3 separate regions of the Homo sapiens genome follow, and all the other regions are linked to region 1. Evidence: fine-mapped expression QTL. A gene starts in region 1. Each other region holds a variant in brackets. All regions are shown on one strand. Distances are between the middles of the regions.

Region 1 (6,838 bases):
GAGTACTTGAAATATGGCTAGCGTGATTGGAGAAACTGAACTTTTAATTCTATTTAATGTTAATTAAATTCAAATTTAAATAGACACATATGACTTCTGGCTACCATACTGAACTTCTGGCTACCATTGCAGAAATTTCTTTTCTTTTTTTTTTTGAGATGGAGTCTCACCCTATCACCTAGGCTGTGGTGCAGTGATGCAATCTCGGCTCACTGCAACCCCTGCCACTTGAGTTCAAGCAATTCTCCTGCCTCAGCCTCCCCAGTAGCTGGGATTACAGGTGCTTGCCACTGCGCCCAGCTATTTTTTTGTAGTTTTTAGTACAGACAGGATTTTGCCATATTGGCCAGGCTGGTCTTGAACTCCTGACCTCGTGATTCACCCCCCTCAGCCTCCCAAAGTGCTGGGATTACAGGCATGAGCCACTGCGCCTGGCCCATTGCAGAAATTTCTATTGGACAGTTCTGCTCTGTGATTCTTTCTTGGGATTAAACTCCTTTTCTTTTCTTCTTTTACCTCATAAATTATGAACATGAAAACAGCAAAAAGTTGAGTCAGAACATCTACCTTTTATAAACACATCTATACCTGTGTGCCTCCATGCCCCTCTTTTACTAACAGCACCCCATTTACCTTTAGGGCAGTCCTTCTCCCCCAACCACCTGTAGTCTTGGCTAATGAAATTGCCCCATCCTCCTCTAGCCAAGGATCCAAGCTAAGTCAACAGACTCTTCTCTCTGGAAATTTCACTCTAGCTTCTGTGTCACAAGAATAGAAAATGTGTCAGAGCAGATTAATATGAGTGTTGATGCCCTAAGACAACATGCGTTCATTTGCAGACCATTAGTCCAGAGTGTGACGATAACAAATGTGACACATGATATGAGTTAGGCGTCATTATCGTCATCCTTGTCATCATGAAAGTGACTTGTACCCAGCAGCTCAGATGTGCCTGCTCCTGTACTAGGTATGTAATTTGCCTAGCTTCTCTTATGCATCCTTTCTTCATCTGTAAAATGGAAATCATACTCATCCTAACTCTTCCACGGTTTTTGTGAAGACAGCAAAAGGAATAATTGTCATGAGGGCCGGGCGCGGTGGCTCACGCCTGTAAGCCCAGCAATTTGGGAGGCCGAAGCAGACAGATCACTTGAGGTCAGGAGTTGGAGACCAGCCTGGCCAACATGGTGAAACCCCATCTCTACTAAAAATACAAAAATTAGACAGACATGGTGGCAGGCACCTATAATTCCAGCTACTCAGGAAACTGAGGCAGAGAATCACTTGAACCTGGGAGGCAGAGGCTGCAGTGAGCAGAGATCGAGCCACTGCACTCCAGCCTGGGTGACAGACCGAGACTCTGTCTCAGGGGAAAAAAAAAAAAAAGAAAAAAAAGAAAAATAACGGTCACGAAAGCTTTGAGCCAAATAAGGAGTTACCCAAGTGTCTGTTGGAGGAGTTGTTCCCAAGGCATAGGTGTGGGGAGTCATGGGAGGGCTTGATGAAGGACCCAGGATCTGAGACCAATTCAAAAGTTGTGCCATACCAGGTTAAGTCACTTGTTCTCTCTGGGCTTTTGGCTTAGATAAGACTGGGTTATACACATCTCTTTCCAGTTTCACCATTTTCTAATCTATTTGCAAGCCCCCTTGCCTGACACATACCCTCTTCCACTTCTATGCACACATGCCAGAAAATTCTCTAGCCTAGTCCATGCTGACCTTGTACCCAACTCATTTCTTCTTTTCCCAGCTCCTCACCTGATTGGGAAGTTGCTCTGGGTATGCACTCCCACAGCTTCCTGAATAACCCTCTGGCAGAGCACCTTATGGAAATCATGCTTAACTATCTCCTCCACTAGTAGGCCATAAGTCCAACTAGAGCAAAGGCCATGTCCCTCTTGTTCACTACTGCTTCTCCAGTGCCCAGTACAGAGTCAAACACATAGAAGATGTTCTATGAGTACTTACTCTTTGAATGAATACCCTACATCTATTTTATTTGTCATTTCAGAAAACACATGGTATTATCTCATGCTGCGTAACAAGTTAGTCCAAAACTTAGCAGCTTAAAACGAGAATAGTCACTTATCCTCTCTCAATTTCTGTGGGACAGAAAGTCAGACAGGGCACAGCAGGGCTGGTTGTTCTCTGCTCCATGTCTGGGACCTCAACTCTAAGACTTAAAGGCCGAGGGCTGGCAAGACCTGAAGTCTCGGTTTGCCATGATCTGGTGATTGACTCTGGCTGTTGGCTGAGAGCCCAGCAGCAGCTGTCAGCGAGAACACCCTCATGTGGCCTCACCATGTGGCTTGGGCTTCTTCACAACATGGTAGCTGGTTTCTTCTGAGGAACCAAGAAGAAGCTGTCTCCTTTTTATGGCCTGGTCTTAAGAGTCATACAGCTTCACTTTCATCACACTTTATTCATTAGACACCAGTCACCAAGTACATCCCACATTCAGGGGGAAAGGAATTAGATCCCATCTTTTGAAAAGAATGGTCAAGAGCTTGCAAGCCAATTTTAAAACCAGCACCACTTGGCTAACACAAGAAGCAATGTATAGAGTGAAAAACAAGTGTCTGAAGAAGTAAGACTTCTGTTCACATTCTAGCTCTGCCACTTACTAGCTGTGTGAGTTTGGGGAAATTACCCTCTGAGACTTGGTTTATACAATACAGGGTGATAGTTGTTGATCCCTAGTGATTTTTCTACGCTTGGAGTCTTCTTGCCTTAGTGAGTTTAAGAAGATCCAGGCTGAACTAACTTTCTTGGAGTCTTGCAATCCTTCCCATCACTGATAACCCTTGGTTTCTGACCCTGGAGGTAGTAAGAGGTTGCTACGGGAGCACAGGGTACCCAGAAAGTTCAGATACTAGGGACAGCTTTAGAGAACAGATGTGAAACCACTGAGGCCCTGGGGTCTCTCTAAGGCCTTTAACCCAGCCCTTGTGTAGTAACCTCAGCTTGTCAAGAAATGCAACGACCCCACAACTAAGGAATCTGAATCTGCCGGCTAAGGCCAAGGAATCTGCATTCTCCCACAAGACTGTGATTCATGCTAACTACAGGCAGGGGAGAGGGGGAGCATCTTAAAGCACACACTCGGCCGTCTCTTCCTAAAGTTCTTGGCTTCAGCCTAGAGATAGTGCCTTTCCCACCATTTACAACTCTATGGCATGAGGGAGGCGGAGGGTGCGTCCAGTGTCCAACCACGCACCACAGCTGGTTGTACTTTCACCTTCCTCTAGGCCAGCGGACCCTCCCCAAGCATTGCCTCCCACGCCCACGTCGCGGTCCCACCCTGGTCCGCGGGGTCCAGAGCGTCCAAAGCCCGGTCTAGGCAGATGGTCTAGGGGTGAGCTCTGCGCACCCCATTCCCACCAGTGCAGGCAATCGAATAAAACAGGGTGACTTTTAACCCTTTTCGTTTCCAGAGATAGTGACCCCCCGTCTCAATCCCTAGATGTCCTCCTCTAAGAACTGTGCGCGCTGGGAGGGACTCTGCGCTCACTCACTGTGACCACCTCGGCTGGGATATGGGGAAACTGAGGCCTACAGAGGGAAGGGAACTGCTGAACGTCCCAAAGCAACACAGGCACTGAATCCGGTCTAGAATCCCAGTCTTCCAGGCCAGTGCTCTCGGTCCTACCGGCTCAGGGCCCCTGCGAAGAATCTTTTTCAAGAAATTCCCGACCGCAGGAATTCCTTCTGCGCTAGGAATCTCCATGGAGTTTGCGCTCCCTCTGGCACGTTGAAAACGTCCTCCGCAGCTTCGCACCGGCTTCGCGGCGCCCTGACAGCTGGGTGAGGAGGGAGCGAATGCCCACCGGCGTCCTTGGGGTAACTTGGGACAGAGGCACCGCCGCGGGGGGCGGAGGACTGGGCGCGAAGGCGCTGGCCCTTTAAGGGGGGGACGGAGCGCATGCGCGGCGCGGGCCGTAGTCGAGCCTGGTGGGCGGCTGGCTGGCAGGGGACGTGGTCGGCGGCAGCGGGGCCCAGGGGCGGCGGGGCTGCAGCAGCGGCGGCCCCAGCTTCGCCGAGCAGCGATCGGCTGGTGGGCTTCTCGTTGGCGGGCTCCGCGTTGGCGGGCTGCTCCCCAGGCACCAGCGCAGCGCGCGCTCGCCCGGCTTCGTCACTCGCCTCCAGCTACATCCGCCGGCCGAGGCTGCGCGAGCCTCCGGGCTTGCGGTCCCCGCCCCGCGGTCCTTCCTCCACCCTCAGCCAGGGCAGCTGCAGCCCGAGCGAACAGCCACGGAGCATCCTCCGCCCGCCCGGGCCGCGCCACCGCCCATGCTGCAGCCAGTCCCAGGCAGCGACCCCGCGGCCGCAGCCCGCCGCTCAGTGACCTCAGCCTGGCCCCTGCGCGCCGCCCGAGCCGGTCCCGCTGAGCCGCGGGCCCCGTGCCCTGCGATGGCTCGGCTGGTGCAGCGCGGCGCCAGGTGCCAGCCGTCCTCCCGCTGAGACGCGCCCGAGTGGGGACCCGCTGGGCCTCGGGGCTCGCAGCCTTCGCCTCCCCGCCGCGCCCGCTCCCTTTCTGGGGACTCCGCCGCTGTTTCTGGGGACGAGGGGACAGGGGACCCAGACAAAGCCCACTTTGTGCAGGGAGTTGGCCGCAGGCGGGGAATGTGCGCGTCGGCGCGCGCCCCCTCCCCGCTCCCGGCCAGCTGCGAGTCTTGGCTCCCGGACTTGTCTCGTCGCGTCGGAGAAATCGCCCCCCAGCGCCGCTCTCCCGCCCGGGGGTCTTGGTTCCGAGCTCGCGCGGCCGGGAGTCGCCTCGGTCTTCCTTGGGGCGCGCGCAGATGTGAGCGTGCGAGAGTTGTGTAGGGGATTTTGTTCCCTCCGAAACTGAGACCCAGGGCGCCCAGTGGGCACCCGTGCCTTGACTCTGTCCTTTCTGCAGCCGCTGGTCCGAGCTGTCTGGCCTCAGTTTCCCTCCGACTTTTCTCCGCTCTGCCAGCCCTCACTGCTGCCCGTCATTGTTCTCGCAGTTAGATGGGGGTGCTTTGTGACGGCTGCCAAGTTGGGGTGTGTTCTCTTTATTCCGTTTTTCAAACAGAACAAGGCCTCCAAGGCTGACCCCAGACAACCCACCCCCTCGGACCCTAATTCACCTTATTGCACTGATTTTTTTTATCAAGTCGTATTTTATTGTACAGGAGCCACGCCCTGATTTCTTAAAGGCGCCTTGCACTCTGGCCATGTGTTATCTCTGCAGCCGGTGTGTGGGAGGCCTCTTGTGAGCCAGTTGTTTTCCCGCCTCCACCACCCCCCTCGAAGATTTAGGGATGCCAGGGGGGAAGAAGGTGGCTGGGGGTGGCAGCAGCGGTGCCACTCCAACGTCCGCTGCGGCCACCGCCCCCTCTGGGGTCAGGCGTTTGGAGACCAGCGAAGGAACCTCAGCCCAGAGAGATGAGGAGCCAGAAGAGGAAGGGGAAGAGGACCTGCGAGACGGAGGCGTCCCCTTCTTTGTCAACCGGGGTGGGCTACCTGTGGATGAGGCCACCTGGGAAAGGATGTGGAAACACGTGGCCAAGATCCACCCCGATGGAGAGAAGGTGGCGCAACGGATCCGTGGGGCCACAGACCTGCCCAAGGTGAGACACACGGGTCAGGGGGGTGATAGCACAGTCTAGGTTTTAGTGACCTTGGGGCCAAGAGTGAAGCCACACTCTCCTCCCACGGGGCAGGGGACCACTGGCTCGGTAAGATCTTTAAAATGCAGTGATATCATACCTGTCTAGGAGAACTTTCTCTCACTGCCATTCTAGGAGGGAGGCTCACATACATTGTCTCCAGGAGGCCCTCCCCGCTGTCTTTTAAAATGTCCACGTTTTACAGGAGGGGACAGCAGCAGATGGAACTAACAAACACAGTAGGATGGCTTGACGTCTCATTTGCTTGATGACACTTGCCAAGCCAGAGAACTGTGAGCAGACAAATGTAATGAATGACTAAGGAGATGCAGGGCTTCATATGTTGAGAAAATATTTTCGTGCATTATGTCATTGAATTCTCCCAACAGCCTTGTGACGTAAGTACAGTTTGGATTCCCATTTTACAGATGAGAAAGCTGAAAACTCAAGTAGGAACTCAAGATCCCACAGCCAGTAAGTGGCAGAACTGAGATTCAATTTCAGGTCTTCAGGAGAAGGGCGGGGGGTGGTGGTGGAGGGAAGTGTCCAGGTCCTCTTCTCTGTTGGACAGTAGATTCAAGCACATTAGAAGAGGTCTTATGGAGAAGCATAAAATGAAATAATTTTTCTGTGTTGGCTGTAACTCCTCCTCCATGACAGCTATACTTCAGTTGTGTCACCAACGAAAACAGAGGCTGTATCTCATTCATCTTTGTCTTCCCAAGGCCTCCTGTGTGCCTGGCACAGAACAGGCACTAGTGTGTGTGTTTGCTGAATGAAAGGGTATTTGAGAGTTTCTGTGCTGTACGCTGCTATATGGAAATACATGCCAGATATTAAAAAAAAAAAAAACATGATCAAGACTAGGAGGCACTTTGCCAAATGCAGAGGCCTGAAATCTCCAAAAAAGAGCCCTTTGGACTGAGTTCAGAGCCCAGTGCTTAGCCCTGCCTGCCCAGGTTGGAAGGAAGGGGGCTAGGAAGAATGGAAGTTAGTGTGAATTAGACATGAGGACAAGTGGCCCGTTTTGTTTTTACCAAGTTATTGGTACAGCCATCAGAAAGTGTCTTCTGGGAAAAAGAGAATCAAAGGTTGAAGGTTTAAATACTGCCTAATGTTTCCAGGGGAAACAAAATGTAGATTGATTTGGAATGGCCGCATAAATGTGCTCTGCACTGACTTAATATTTATTTAGCTAATCCC
Region 2 (6,838 bases), 36 kb before region 1:
AACTTGTCCCCATCCTGGGTCACACCAGCTACACTACACTGAGTCAGTATTTTTCATAAATTTAAAGGCCATGGTGTCCAATTTTATTGCAGTGTTTTCTTTGTATTAAGGAATGAATCTGTTAGTGGCAAACATTTAAAATATATTGCCAACTTTATTTAATTAATTTATTTATTTTTGAGATGGAGTTTTTGCTCTGTTGCCCAGGCTGGAGTGCAGTGGCAAGATCTCAGCTCACTGCAACCTCTGACTCCAGGGTTCAAGCGATTCTTCCGCCTCAGCCTCCCGAGTAGCTGGGATTACAGGCGCCTGCCACCCTACCCAGCTAATTTTTGTATTTTTAGTAGAGACGAGGTCTCACCATGTTGGCCAGGCTAGTCTCAAACTCTTGACCTCAGGTGATCCGCCCACCTTGGCCTCCCAAAGTGCTCGATTACAGGTATGAGGCACCGGGCCGGGCCAAACTGCAAACTTTATAATGCTGTTAGGGTTCTTCTCCTGTATTTTTAATTTATAGGGAGCTTGAAAAACGGGTGTGGCCCAAGTCTCTCTCAGTTGCTGAGATGCCCTGACGGCACCTCCCACAGCCCTGGGCCCCCTGTAGGACCAGTCTCCCCTGGAGGACACCCACAAGAACAGGAAAGCCCCACCAAAACGCTAAGGAGGGAGGCAGAATTGGTGACACTGGGTCCCCAGAGATCCCATGGCTGGTGACACCATAAAAACTCGTTTTCTTCCCTGAGAGATGAAGAGGAGTGGGGGCAGGAGATGATCTACATGCCAACTCTGGGAATATGTTCAGTCCTATCACTGGGCCCCATTTTTGTTGGTGGCCAACGCAACAGTCTTTCCCTGACTCCTTCCCATGAGCTTGCCTTTCATCATAGGGGATGAAAGGCCAAAGATACCTTCCCAGCCTCTTCTGCGCTAGAAGTAGCCTAGTCAATAAGATACAAAAAAAATTCTCCTGGGTTGTTTTTAGAAAATCTTTTCCTCTCTGATAAAAACAGAGGGGCAAGTCCAGGCACAGTGGCTCACGCCTGTAATCCTAGTACTTTGGGAGGCCAAGGTGGGCGGATTGCCTGAGCTCAGGAGTTCAAGACCAGCCTGGGCAACATGGCAAAATCCCGTCTGTACTAAAAATACAAAAAATTACCCAGGCGTGGTGGCGCGTGCCTGTAATCCCAGCTACTCAGGAGGTTGAGGCAGGAGAATCGCTTGAACCTGGGAGGCAGAGGTTGCAGTGAGCTGAGATCACACCACTGCACTTCAGCCTGGGCGACAGGGCAAGACTCTGTCTCAAAAAAAAAAAAAAAAAAAAAAAAAGAGGGGCAAGAGGAGAGCTCCTTTGCCCACCTCCTTGTTTCTAGATTGGGTTGGGCGTGCCGAGTGAAGACAATGTGCTGGCGCTCAGGCAGGGCAGGAAGTGTGCTAAAGCCAAAAGGGTGGAAGGACCTCGCTGAGCTGCTGCACGAACCCCTGAACTGTCTACACCCAGGCTTCTTAATTATGGGCGATGATTAAGTGGCTTTTTGATTTAAGCTACTCTTGCACAGGTGTTCCATGATTTGCAGTCAAAAGCATTTCCAACACCCAGAGCTGTGCTAGGACTTGTAGAGGATACAGAGACTTCCAAGATTTGATTTCTTCCTTCTATTCTAGAAGCTTATATTCAAAGTAGGGAAACTAGACATATGTACAGGTGTTCAACATCCTTAAAAATCAAACAACTTGGAGTATAATCAAATTTTAAACTGAAAGTAACAGCAATTTCACTCTTGAGAACTTTTCCCAAGAATGTATGTTCAGAGATATTTGCTGAATTGCAGCATATAGTAGAGAAAATGTGGACATACCCTAAATATTTAGCAATAGGGATTGAAATTACAGCACATACATAAATGGAATACTATGAAGTCAGTAAAGATGGTGATGTTGATATATACTTAATGATGGGAATTCTATAGACAATACTCAGAAAAAAAAACAGGTTATCAACTGTGTACTATATAAATCCACTCATGCACAAAAACATCTGAGTCTGGTATATGTGAAACTGTCAGCAGTGATTATTGGTATACAGTGGAATCATGATGGATTTTTATTTTCCTTACACTTTTCTGTACTTTTTCCACTTGTTGCAATGAACACATATTGCATTTGTAATAGTTGCACTAACAGCATTTAGAAATGCAACTGAATAGTAAGACTATCTGTGCTAATAGAGTACAGTGAAGAGCTTTTAAAAATCTACCAAAATTCACTGTGCATCAACTATTTGCAAAACAACATGGTATATAGGAAGGGGATGGAGAACATGAAAAATAGATCCACAGTCATACACACAGTCCATGGCTTTGAAGGGTGGCAGAATATGCCATCCCCAAAATATGCCACTTGCCTTGATTATTTTGAACTAAAGGCACTTGCAAAAGGGGTGCTCTGACCTCCCCTTTTCTTCCTAAAAACAGGAGATAAATCTCCCATGTGAAAGGTCCCCTCCCTATACCAGGAGGAAAGAAACATTCTTATCATCAGAGATAGGAAGTTGAGACCAAGAGAAATCTGTACATACAGACCTTGTTAAAATAATTCTTACGTTCTTTTAGTCCTCATGTATATTTTAGTTACTCTTCCACAATTGCCTCTCTTTGTTCAACCTAGTATATAAGCACTTAGGTTTTGCCAGTTCTTTAGATCTTCATTTTCCTTTGGGGGATCCCATGTACATGTCAAAACCTGTGTGCTTTTCTCCTGTTCATCTGCCTATGTCATCTTAATTATCAGTCCCAACCAGTAACCCTAAGATGGTTGAGGTAAAGATTTTCTTCCCCTACAGCTTTAAAGAACCAAGTTTCTACCTGGGCAGCTAAGACACAGACAGGTGACATAGTTCCATCCATTCTTAGGAGCTTAGAATATTTGTTACATATCCTAACCTGCCCAATGATATGATAGATATTGAAATAAAACATCGAGTTTTAAGTATTTGGCTTTTATGAAAAAAAATTGGAACAACAGTTTTACATTATAATTTTATATACAGAGTATTTAAGTCAGGCATTGTGAATAGCTTCTGGGAAATGCTTTCAGACCTTGTAAGTTTTGCCTAGGATTGTTTGCAAAGTCTGATTTAACACCCTGTATATAATAGAGAAACCTAATTCACACCCAAACCTTTTGTATTTCTTAGAGTTACAAATGCAGCAAAGCATCTCTTAATTTCTAGAACCTTTCCAAATCATAAATGGTAGTATCAGTTTAAACCCTGTGATGTTCTGATAGGCTTATCACATATGTGGTGTGACCCTGATATTACCAGCAGCATAGCTTAATTCTTGAATTTGACCCTGTGTTAGTCCGTTCTCTCGCTACTAATAAAGACATACCCCAGACTGGGTAATTTATATAGGAAAGAGGTTTAATTGACTCACAGTTCAGATGGCTGGGGAGTCCTCAGGAAACTTACAATGACAATGGAAGGGGAAGCAAACACATCTTTCTTCAAATGGTGGCAGGAAGAAGTGCCAAGCAAAAAGGGGGAAAGCCCCTTATAAATCAGCTCTTGTAAGAACTCACTATCA[C/T]GAGAACAGCATGAGGATAAGTTCCCCCATGATTCAATTATCTCCCACCAAGTCCCTCTCATGACACGTGGGGATTATGGGAACTACAATTTAAGATGAGATTTGGCGGGGGACACAGCCAAACCATATCAACCCTCTTCCCCTGTTTCTGGGTATATTCTAGCAAACTAGGTAGCATTCTAGCTTTCCTTAGACTAGAACGATGTTTAAACAATTGTCCTTACATTTAACATTTGAGTACAGAAAAAGATCGTCTAGGTTTATTTACTAAAACTGTCAGCTGGGTTCACCAAGCCACCCAAAATCCAGATAACATGGATTCATCCCAAATTCTTGTGCTCACCACTGGCTCTGAGCTGCATCTGCAGAATCACATCACTTTAGGAATCACCTTGCCATCCTGCTGTTGTTGCTGTTGGCACACATACCATTGACCCATCCGTGGCACTCAAACCACTCCCTAATTTGCACAGGGGCAGGTGCATGTTGTGTGTGTACATGTGTTTGCGGGCATGCATGTGTGTGTGCATGTGTTTTGAAGGTCTTACCAAATATTGGTGCATGGCCCTCTCACCTCTTTCCTCCCACCTTAATGCAGGAACTGGTTTGTCTCTCTTTTGTTGCTTAAAGTTCTGCTGGCCGGTACCCTTAGTATCTTCTTTATTCATTTTCAGTCAGCAAATAGTTATTGAAGACCAACTATGTGCCATGCACTGTACTAGGTGCTGGGGAAAACAGTAATAGTCCTTAACTTCAGAGAGTTTACAGTCCACAGTCTCCTGTCAAAGACAAACCTTACTCAAAGAATCATACTACCAAATATAGTTTCCCTAAGTACTTTTTAACTTTGTATTTTTAAAATAATTTTAGACTCATGTAGAAGTGCACATAGATATACTATATAGTTCCCGTGTACCCTTAATCCAGCTTCCTCCAATGGTAACATCCTGCATATTCATAGTACAATCATCACAACTGAAATGGGAAAAGTTCCCTTGTCCCCCTTGCAGGGCGTGCGATGGGGATGTGGCTTGCTTTTTCAGTGCCCTGCTGCTCAAACCTGTAGGGGAGCATACAGACAGGCACGCTATGGGCCTCCGACCCCATGGCAGTGTCTAGGGGTGAATGTTTACAGCTGAAGCCCTAGTGGGCGTGTTACTGTGTGTGTGTGTGTGTGTGTGTGTGTGTGTATGTGTGTGTTTTGAGACCGAGTCTCGCTTTGTTGCCCAGGCTGGAGTGCAGCGGTGTGATCTTGGCTCACTGCAACCTCCGCCTCCCGGGTTTAAGCAATTTTCTGCCTCAGCCTCCCGAGTAGCTGGGATTACAGGCGCCCGCCACCGCGCCCGGCTAATTTTTGTATTTTTAGTAGAGACGGGGTTTCACCATCTTGGCCAGGCTGGTCTGAAACTCCTGACCTCATGAGGCCTCCCAAAGTGCTGGGATTACAGGCGTGAGCCACCGCACCTAGCCCAGTGTGCTCTTTTAGTTTTGCTTTTAGTTTGGCCGGCTATAGGTGGCTTGTTTTAGTCAGCTCAATTAGACCCCTGCCTTATTGCAAGGACAGAGGGCTTTCTATATCCCCAGGTTCTTGCCTTGGTGCACCAAAGAATCGGATCATATGTGGGCTTGGAGAATGAGCGGAAGGTTTTACTGAGTGGAAGTACCTCTTAGCAGATGGGGGAGCCAGAAGGGAGATGGTTTTCCCTGGAGTCGGTCTGCTTGGCGGCCCGAGCGCTCCTCCGACTGCCCCAGCCAAACACCGCGTTGTTTTGCCAGTCAGTGGCCTGCCGGCATGCTGGTGCCTGTGGGTGTGTTCCTCCACAGAGCACTCCTCTTGACTTCCAGCTGCTGCTGTTTCTGCCTTGCTAGGGTCTCGGGTTTTTATAGGCACAGGATGGGGGCATGGCAGGCCAGGGTGGTCTTGGAAAATGCAACATTTGGGCAGTAAATTCCTGTCCTCACCTAGGTCGGTGGGGGTGGAGCCCTAGCCAGAGACCACGCCCTCCTCTACCCAGCACTTCCCTTCTCCCTTCCCTATCATTTAAAAGAACTACACCCTTCCCTTCCCAGCACTCCTGTATCTAACCAGGAAATGTACATGAATGCAATACTATTAACTAAACTACAGCCCTTATTGGATTAGCATTTAGCCATCTCTAAGTGCTTTTTTTTGTTTTTTTGTTGTTTTGTTGTTGTTGTTGTTTTGTTTTGAGACACGGTCTTACTCTGTTATCCAGGCTGGCGTGCAGCGGCACAATTACGACTCACTGCAGCCTTATCCTCCCGGGTTCAAACGATCCTCCCACCTTAGCCTCCTGAGTAGCTGGGATTACAGGTGTGCAGCACCATATCTGGCTAAGTTTTGTATTTTTTGTAGAGACTTAGTCTCACCATGTTGCCCAGGCTGGTCTCAAATTCCTGACCTCAAGCAATTCTCCTGCCTTCACCTCCCAAAGTTTTGGGATTACAGGCATGAGCCACCATGCCTAGCCTCTGTGCTAGCCTCTAAGTGCTTTTTAATACACTAATTAATAATTATAACGCCTAGCCTCTGTGCTAGCCTCTAAGTGCTTTTTAATACACTAATTAATAATTATAACAATCATAGGCAGTAAATACTACCATCACCCCTATTTTATAGATGCAGGAACTGAGACCAGAACAGTTACATAACTTGCCGAAGAGTCAGCTTGCAGTGGCATGACGAGGATTGCAAATCCAGGCAGCCCGGCTGTAAGGGATTTGCTCCCCACCACTATACTGTCCCTCCTCTTAACACTGCCCAACCTAGCCAGAACATGTTTTCTTGTTCAAACCCAAACAACCTATCATAGCTCTACAATACATGGCCAGGGAGCTATTAGAAAAAGTTGTAACACTTGGATGACATCTTTAAAGCCAAAATTTTGCTTCCAAAATCAAAGTTTGTTTCAATGGCAGAGGCTTCCCAAAGGAAATGACTATTTCGATCACTGTTCATGAAACAATATTCTTTGGGCTAACAAAGGCTGACATTTCAAACATTTCCCTGTGGTTGAAAATAACTTCAGCTGAAATATTTTGATTCTCAAAAGGAAGTTTCTTTGTAAGAAACGGCAAGAAATGCAGGTGCAGTTAAGGCACACCCAAAACAAAGGCCTCTGAAAATGCAGGGCTTCCTCTCCAAATCATACAATGTTTCCAACTGTCTCATTCCCACTGAAGGAGATAAGAACATGCCTTCCCCAAAATATGCTGCCCTGGCATATTGACTA
Region 3 (6,838 bases), 45 kb before region 1:
CCAGGCTGATCTTGAACTCCTGGGCTAAAGTGATCCTCCCGCCTCGGGCTCCCAAAGTGCTGGGATTACAGGCATGAGCCATCACACCCAGACTTGTTCAATACCTTTAAGGCAGCATTTTAAAGTTACCATTGGTGGGTTCCTAGGGCTCCCCACAGCTGTCTTACACTAGGGACAAAGAGGCCATTGTCCTTTTCCGTTTAGCAAGCCGAAAAGGTTCCCAATTTTGAAAAGCTACCTTCCTCCAGCATACCCCCACAAAAGTCATTGTCCTGAAGACCTCTGGGAACATGACAAATGGCAGATCTGTGCAAATATACAACCGCCCTAACCGAGGCCACAGCCACCCGGCCCACTTAGGAGAGCTGGCATTGAATGGGAAGTGGCCGGCGCTTTCAGCCTGGCCAGCGGGCTGACAAGGGGTCTTTGTAATGGGAACAAAACTGCATCCCCCTTCACCTGGAGATTCTCCAGCACCCCCTCCTCTCCTGCACTGCCCCCCAGCACACATCCGTGCACACACGCACACAGAGGGGGGTTTATGTTTGCTTCGTAGGTGTGTTAATAAAAATCTCCTTAGGGTCACCGCTTCTGAGGTTTTGAAGTGAAACACTGCCCAAAAGGAGGGTTCATCTTCAAGGCAGCCTCACCTTCACCCCATTAAGTAGCTCCTGCTCACATCTTTCCTGAAACCACTTAAGGTAATTCCCTGTCTTAACGCTGAAGGTGCTTATGGTTCTATTTCAGACTCCTGGTGTGGGCAGTACAGGGTGAAAGAAATGCCCCGGATAATTAAGGAGATTATTTTATTCAGGCTATTAGGGAGAACTTTCATGAATACAGAGAAAGTTCTCAGCAAAAAGGAAGTGGGGGAAGCTGGGGTGGTACAGAGGCAAGGCTCTGGGGGAAGAATGGACACGGCTTATTTGAAGCATGCGATGGGAATCTACAGAATATGCAAGGGCAGGGGAGTCCTTTGCAATTTCTACCTCCCTTTGGAGCACCAAATAAAGTCCAATATGGGCAACAGAAGACCAGAAAGCTGGCCTCCCCTGTAGCTGAGGAAGGAGGAAATGAGTAGTGAGAATGATGTCCCAGATGCCTCCAGGGGAGGCGGTTCTGGGGACTGGGGTAAGTAGGGGCTGTGGGGAGAGAAAGAGGGTGTGGGAGGAGGAAACACATCTCCAGGTGCTCTTTGGCAGCTGAAATTTCATTCCTCAAATTCAGAAATCATCAGGCCAGGCATGGTGGCTCACGCCTGTAATCCCAGCACTTTGGGAGGCTGAGGTGGGTGGATCACCTGAGGTCAGAAGTTCAAGACCAGCCTGGCCAACATGGTGAAACTCCGTCTCTACTAATAATACAAAAATTAGCCAGGCGTGGTGGTGCACACCTGTAATTCCAGCTACTTGGGAGGCTGAGGCAGGAGAATCGCTTGAACCCGGGAGGCAGAGGTTCCAGTGAGCCAAGATCACGCCATTGCACTCCAGCCTGGGCAACAAGAGTGAAACTCAAAAAAAAAAAAAAATTTTTTTCAGAAATTATCTCCTCCCATCCTGTCCTTCTCCCTCCGTCTTCCTCAAATGGCAGGAGGGTGAGGCTATGATTGAAAGAAAACCACTCAATTCCTTGTATCCCCCCAAACACATGTACACACATGCAGCTCTGTTCCAACCTCCTGGAAGGAAACTGGCTGTCACCAAAGGATTCCAGCCAAATACTTGGGGTTCCTCAAGGATATCTTTTGAAAACAACAACAACAAAAATGTAGATTTTTTTTTTTTTTTTTTTGAGACAGTCTCGCTCTTGTTGCCCAGGCTGGAGTGCAATGGCACGATCTTGGCTACTGCAACCTCCACTTCCCGGGTTCAAGCGATTCTCCTGCCTCAGCCTCCTGAGTAGCTGGGATTACAGGCGCCTGCCACCATGACCAGCTAATTTTTGGACTTTTAGTAGAGATGGGGTTGCACCATGTTGGCCAGGTTGGTCTCAAACTCCTGACCTCAGGTGATCCGTCCGCCTCGACCTCCCAAAGTGCTGGGATTACAGGCGTGAGCCATCGTGCCCAGCCAAATGTAGATGGTTGAACAGCTCCAGTCACAATGTAAAGTTTTAATTTTCCTCTGCAATAAAAGCAGCCTTTTTCTTAATGTTTTCTTTGATAGAGGGAAGCCCCCACCACCACTCCCGGCTTCTTTGCCCCAGCCCTCCTCTTTATCTAACCCAGCCAGATGTGTGCATTTTTTTTTTCCATTCACATGGCACAGGGTTTGAAGATGAGCTGTATCCCCCATTAGCCACTCTTTCCACCCCCGGAGAGACTCTGATTGTGGAGGATTCGTGCTGCTGACTGTAGATAAAACAATCGAGATGGGGGGCTGCTTTGGAAACGGGGGGGGGTGTGGGGATTTTTCCATCTGGAATCACAAGGCTTTTGGTGGTAGGCCCAGATGGAACCACGATCTGTCTGTGGAGACAAAGCTTCTTTTGGAACTGGTCATGGCCACAGGAATATGAGGTTTTTGACAATACGGTGGCCAAGAGATAGGAAACTGAAGTGGGTTATGAAATGCCAAGGACAGATCACTCTGACTCTGGTGAAGTAAGCCCATTAGTAAGCTGAACTCATGTAATTCATCAAGGAGCTTCCTTGAGCCGGTGAAAACAAGGATTGTAGAACTGTGAGTTCAGACCTGGACGTTAGAAAAACAACTCCCAAGTCAGCCAGTCTCCACCCTCTTAGCTTAAGTCATCTTTCGGCTGGGAGCAAACATGCTTCCTTACCACACCAGAACAATGCTAGGTCTTCAATTATTGTAAAGAATTTTACAAATGCTGAGTGTCCCTGTCGACACTATTAATGAACATCCTCTAAGCTGCACTTAAGCCAAATCCCAAGGGATAATTAGGGATACGGAACAATGATACAATGTAGATTGCCAGTTTGCTTGAAGCTCCCAACATCCAATTAGAGGGTGGTAG[C/T]GATTTCCCAGAGCACAGGAGATGAAAACCATCTGTCACAGCCTGCTTCCTAAATCCTCCCTTCCAGGAGCTCTTTCTGTCACCTAATAATGCCAAAAAGGAGCACCTTCTCGGCCCTGAAAGCCCATCTTCCGACCAGACATGAGTTAACAAGCTGCGCGCCCCAGGGCAGACCACATTTCCTCTCTGAGCCTTCATTTTCTCTTCTATAAAATGAACCTGCTGGACATGGGTTGGTGGCTTTCAAACTTTTGAAAGCAGTGGAAACTTTTGTTTTTCTCAAGAGGAAAGCTTGATGATGGAACTCAATTTGGAGTATCTTTATGTCACTGAGAGGAAGTATAATAAACACTCCACTAATCAGACTGCTGGAGGGAGACGGCTCAGCTCTTTTGTGTCTTAAATCTCCAAGCAGACTATCAGTCCCCATGGATTGGATCACTGCCTGCAAGTATTAACTGCTTAATAAATGTCACGTAGGAAAAAATGTGTGCTTCATTGGGAAACTGTGTATCCTTTAGAGCATACCCTTCCAGGTTATCTGAGTGCGATGCTTTAGGGTCTCTGGGCCATTCATTGCCTTTGAGCTATTTTTCAAATCTGTAAATTGTAGATAACTGATAGCAATGTAAATAATTCCTGTTTGCAGGCATGCAAATACATTCTGTCCCGAGGTGGTTCAATTTACTTCCTATTTTCCAAAGGAAAGCCAGTTTCCTTCTATTTGAAATATGTTTCCTTCTATTCGTAAATATATTTCCTTCTATTCGTAAATACACTTCAACATTGCTTTTCTCCATATAAATTTGTGCCTCTTTTGACTTCTCATTTGAACCGGTTGTCACATCTTACCAGCCTTCATTAATGATGCACTAAATACAATTTTAACATGTCCATTTTATGTTTGTAGGAATGTCATGATTTTAGCTTTCTTTGAAAATTGCCTTAGTTAAAAAGTTTATCAATAAAAATGAACATTTTTTTTTTCCGAGTTCTCCCCTGATGTCCAATAGCATTTATACTCACACACAGTTGACTTTAAAAGTATAATGTTATGGAAATGCCTTTAGGAAAGCAACACATGCTCATTGGGAATAAGAAATGAGAGAAAGAGCCACATGGGATACTAGGAGCTAGGCTCCCTTAGGCATAAAAGGGCAAGTCGGGGAGCAGTTACCCCAACTCAAGAGAGAAGCTATTGAGAAGGCTGGTGATAGGAGCTGAGGGCTGAAACAGGCGGAGGCAACCAACCCAGGGCAACCCAGTGTAATCACACCAGACCAATCTGGTTCAACTCTTTTTTTTTTTGAGACAGAGTCTCGCTCTGTTGCCCAGGCTAGAGTGCAGTGGCGCAATCTTGGCTCACTGCAAGCACCGCCTCCCAGGTTCACACCATTCTCCTGCCTCAGCCTCCTGAGTAGCTGGGACTACAGGCACCTGCCACCACACCTGGCTAATTTTTTTTACTTTTAATAGAGACGGGGTTTCACCGTGTTAGCCAGGATGGTCTCGATCTCCTGACTTCGTGATCTGCTCACCTCGGCCTCCCAAAGAGCTGGGATTACAGGCGTGAGCCACCGTGCCCAGCCCTGGTTCAACTTTTATGTAACAAAGTCGTGAGTTGTTTTTTGGTTGCCATGGATCCCCAAGTTGAAAGTCAAGTAACCTGAACATGCCCAGATGAACCAAGTGTGCAACCACAAGTGGAACCTAAGTGCTGGAAGCCGGGAGCAAGGACTGCTTTCAGAGGTGGACTGCACATGGCAGGATCCAGGATCCAATCAGATTGAGCTCTAGTGTCACCCCGTGGCAGGATCCAGTCAGATCATGCCTCCCCAGCATCACCTCATTGCAAGATCCAATCAGATCATGGTTCATTACCCTTCGCCTATAAAACCTGCCCCAGCCCACCAGCTAGGCGACATAGATTTCAGCCTTGCCTCCTGTCTTGCCAGTCAATTCCCAATAAAGGTTTTCAGTGCCATGGTATTGGCTTGTGTGTGCATCAGGCAGTGAGCCCATTGCTTGCTGGGTAATACCAGCAGAAAGAGAACAGAAATGAATATTCCAGCCTCACTCTGCTCCCTGCCTTCATGGGCCAAATCCAGCTGGACCAAGAGGGAAAGGGAGTACACATGTTCATAGGCGTCAGCCTTCTTGGTGGAGGGGACATCACAGTCATTCAAACAGCGAACCAAGACAGCTTGGGATGAGAATCAAACCACTCATAGCTCACTGTCTATATTAACATGACTTTACTATTCCACTGTCCTCATCAAAGTAACTTCACTATTATTCCAGAAAATGCTTGCCCAGGAAGATAAAAGCTGTAAATAACTCTACTGTTCATCCCAGGAACTTCCTGAAGGACACACCATGTCTTCAACAGGAAGCATCAGTTTATAGGTTCAATAGGAAGACAGTTTATACCCCAAGGTTCTTTGAACGCCTCAGCCAGAAATCCTCACTTTGCTGTGTCTACCAATCATGATCTTAGCAACCCCCATCAAGCATGCCACCTCTGCACTGAAAGAGCCACCTTAAACCAGGCCTCAAAGTCTCAATAAAAATCACTTTGCCCTCCCACTTTGGGAAGCTACTGAGGCTTTGTGGAGGGGGTACTCTACCTTACCACGGTGAACAATCAACTCAGCCTTGCCTTCTCCGCAGGTTGCTCTGGTGATATTTAGGAGATGGCATTTGACAGAAGGGAAGCATATTTGGAGATGATTGTGTATGTGAGCCTGAATCATCCAGGCAGGTTTCTTCCCTGCTCCAGTTCAGTGGGACGACTGCATAAATATTCTTTCTTTTTCCTATGTGGATACAAAATATTGAGTTTGGGGGCTGGAAGGAATCCCAGCGATGAACTCATCCCTCCCCTCCTTTATGGATTAGGTCAGTAGAACTTACACAGGGAGGTCAGCCAGGGGGCTGGGATCTGAATTCAAGTCCTGCGGCTCTGAGCCAGGTGGCCTGCATTTATTCATTCTCTTGCTGCCATGTTTCTCTTTTCTTTTCTTTTTTTTTTTTTTTTTTTTTTTTTTTGAGATGGAGTTTCACTCTTGTTGCCCAGGCTGGAGTGCAATGGCATGATCTCCGCTCACTGCAACCTCCACCTCCTGGGTTCAAGTGATTCTCTTGCCTCAGCCTCCTGAGTAGCTGAGATTATAAGCATGTGCCACCACACCCAGCTAATTTTGTATTTTTAGTAGAGACAGGGTTTCTCTATGTTGGTCAAGCTGGTCTCGAACTCCTGACCTCAGGTGATCCACCCGTCTCGGCCTCCCAAAGTGCTGGGATTACAGGCATGAGCCACTGTGCCCAGCTTTTTTTTTTTTTTTTTTGGTTTAACAATTGTTTGCTGTGTACCAGGTATTGTGCCAGGTGACGAGCACTCAGAAGTGGGGCCACGTTTTCGAGATTCTTGCCCCGTTTTTCCTTCCGCCCCTTTAAAGCAGATCCTGGGCTCTGTGCTCCTTTACTGAAGAAAGTGGTGGAAGGAAAGAAAGTCGATAGCAGTCTAAGAACTCCCAGCTTCCAATCCCTAAAGTCTAAACATTTGGGAAGAACAGAGGAGATTACAGGTAAGGACCCAAAATGTAGGAAAGGTTTTTCCTGGGCTGGTGTTGGAGGGGAGAGGATGAGAACAGAGAAGGGATGGGTCTCAGGAGGAGCAACCCAAGAGAGAAGGCCTGCGTGGACAGGACTCGACGGGGCATGGAGGGCTCTGTGACATGAAGCGGCAGAGTGACCCCCATACCTCCCCAGAGCCATGTGGACAAGACTGAGGGCCAGCCCAGGAGTGACCTGTGGAACCAATAACCAGCACCAATGCCCTGGCACCATTACGGTC

Evidence for each region. PIP is the estimated chance that this variant, and not a neighbour inherited with it, causes the effect.
Region 2: its variant is fine-mapped to the expression of VASH1 in whole blood (INTERVAL, PIP above 0.99).
Region 3: its variant is fine-mapped to the expression of VASH1 in whole blood (INTERVAL, PIP above 0.99).

What each region holds. Positions count from the first base shown.
Region 1 is chr14:76,757,535-76,764,372 of GRCh38, forward strand. VASH1 (vasohibin 1) reads left to right here and starts at 3,934. Exons shown (of 7, transcript NM_014909.5): 1 at 3,934-5,596. The coding sequence starts at 5,288. RefSeq lists silencers at 3,901-4,090, 4,191-4,460.
Region 2 is chr14:76,721,271-76,728,108 of GRCh38, forward strand. It overlaps LOC105370577 (a long non-coding RNA gene), which reads right to left and starts at 5,441. Exons shown (of 2, transcript XR_007064273.1): 1 at 5,249-5,441. The variant C/T (reference allele first, on the strand shown) is at 3,585.
Region 3 is chr14:76,712,977-76,719,814 of GRCh38, forward strand. The region is part of intron 1 of LOC105370577 (a long non-coding RNA gene); the gene reads right to left. Among named protein-coding and RNA genes, the nearest start is that of VASH1, 45 kb to the right of the region's middle. The variant C/T (reference allele first, on the strand shown) is at 2,983.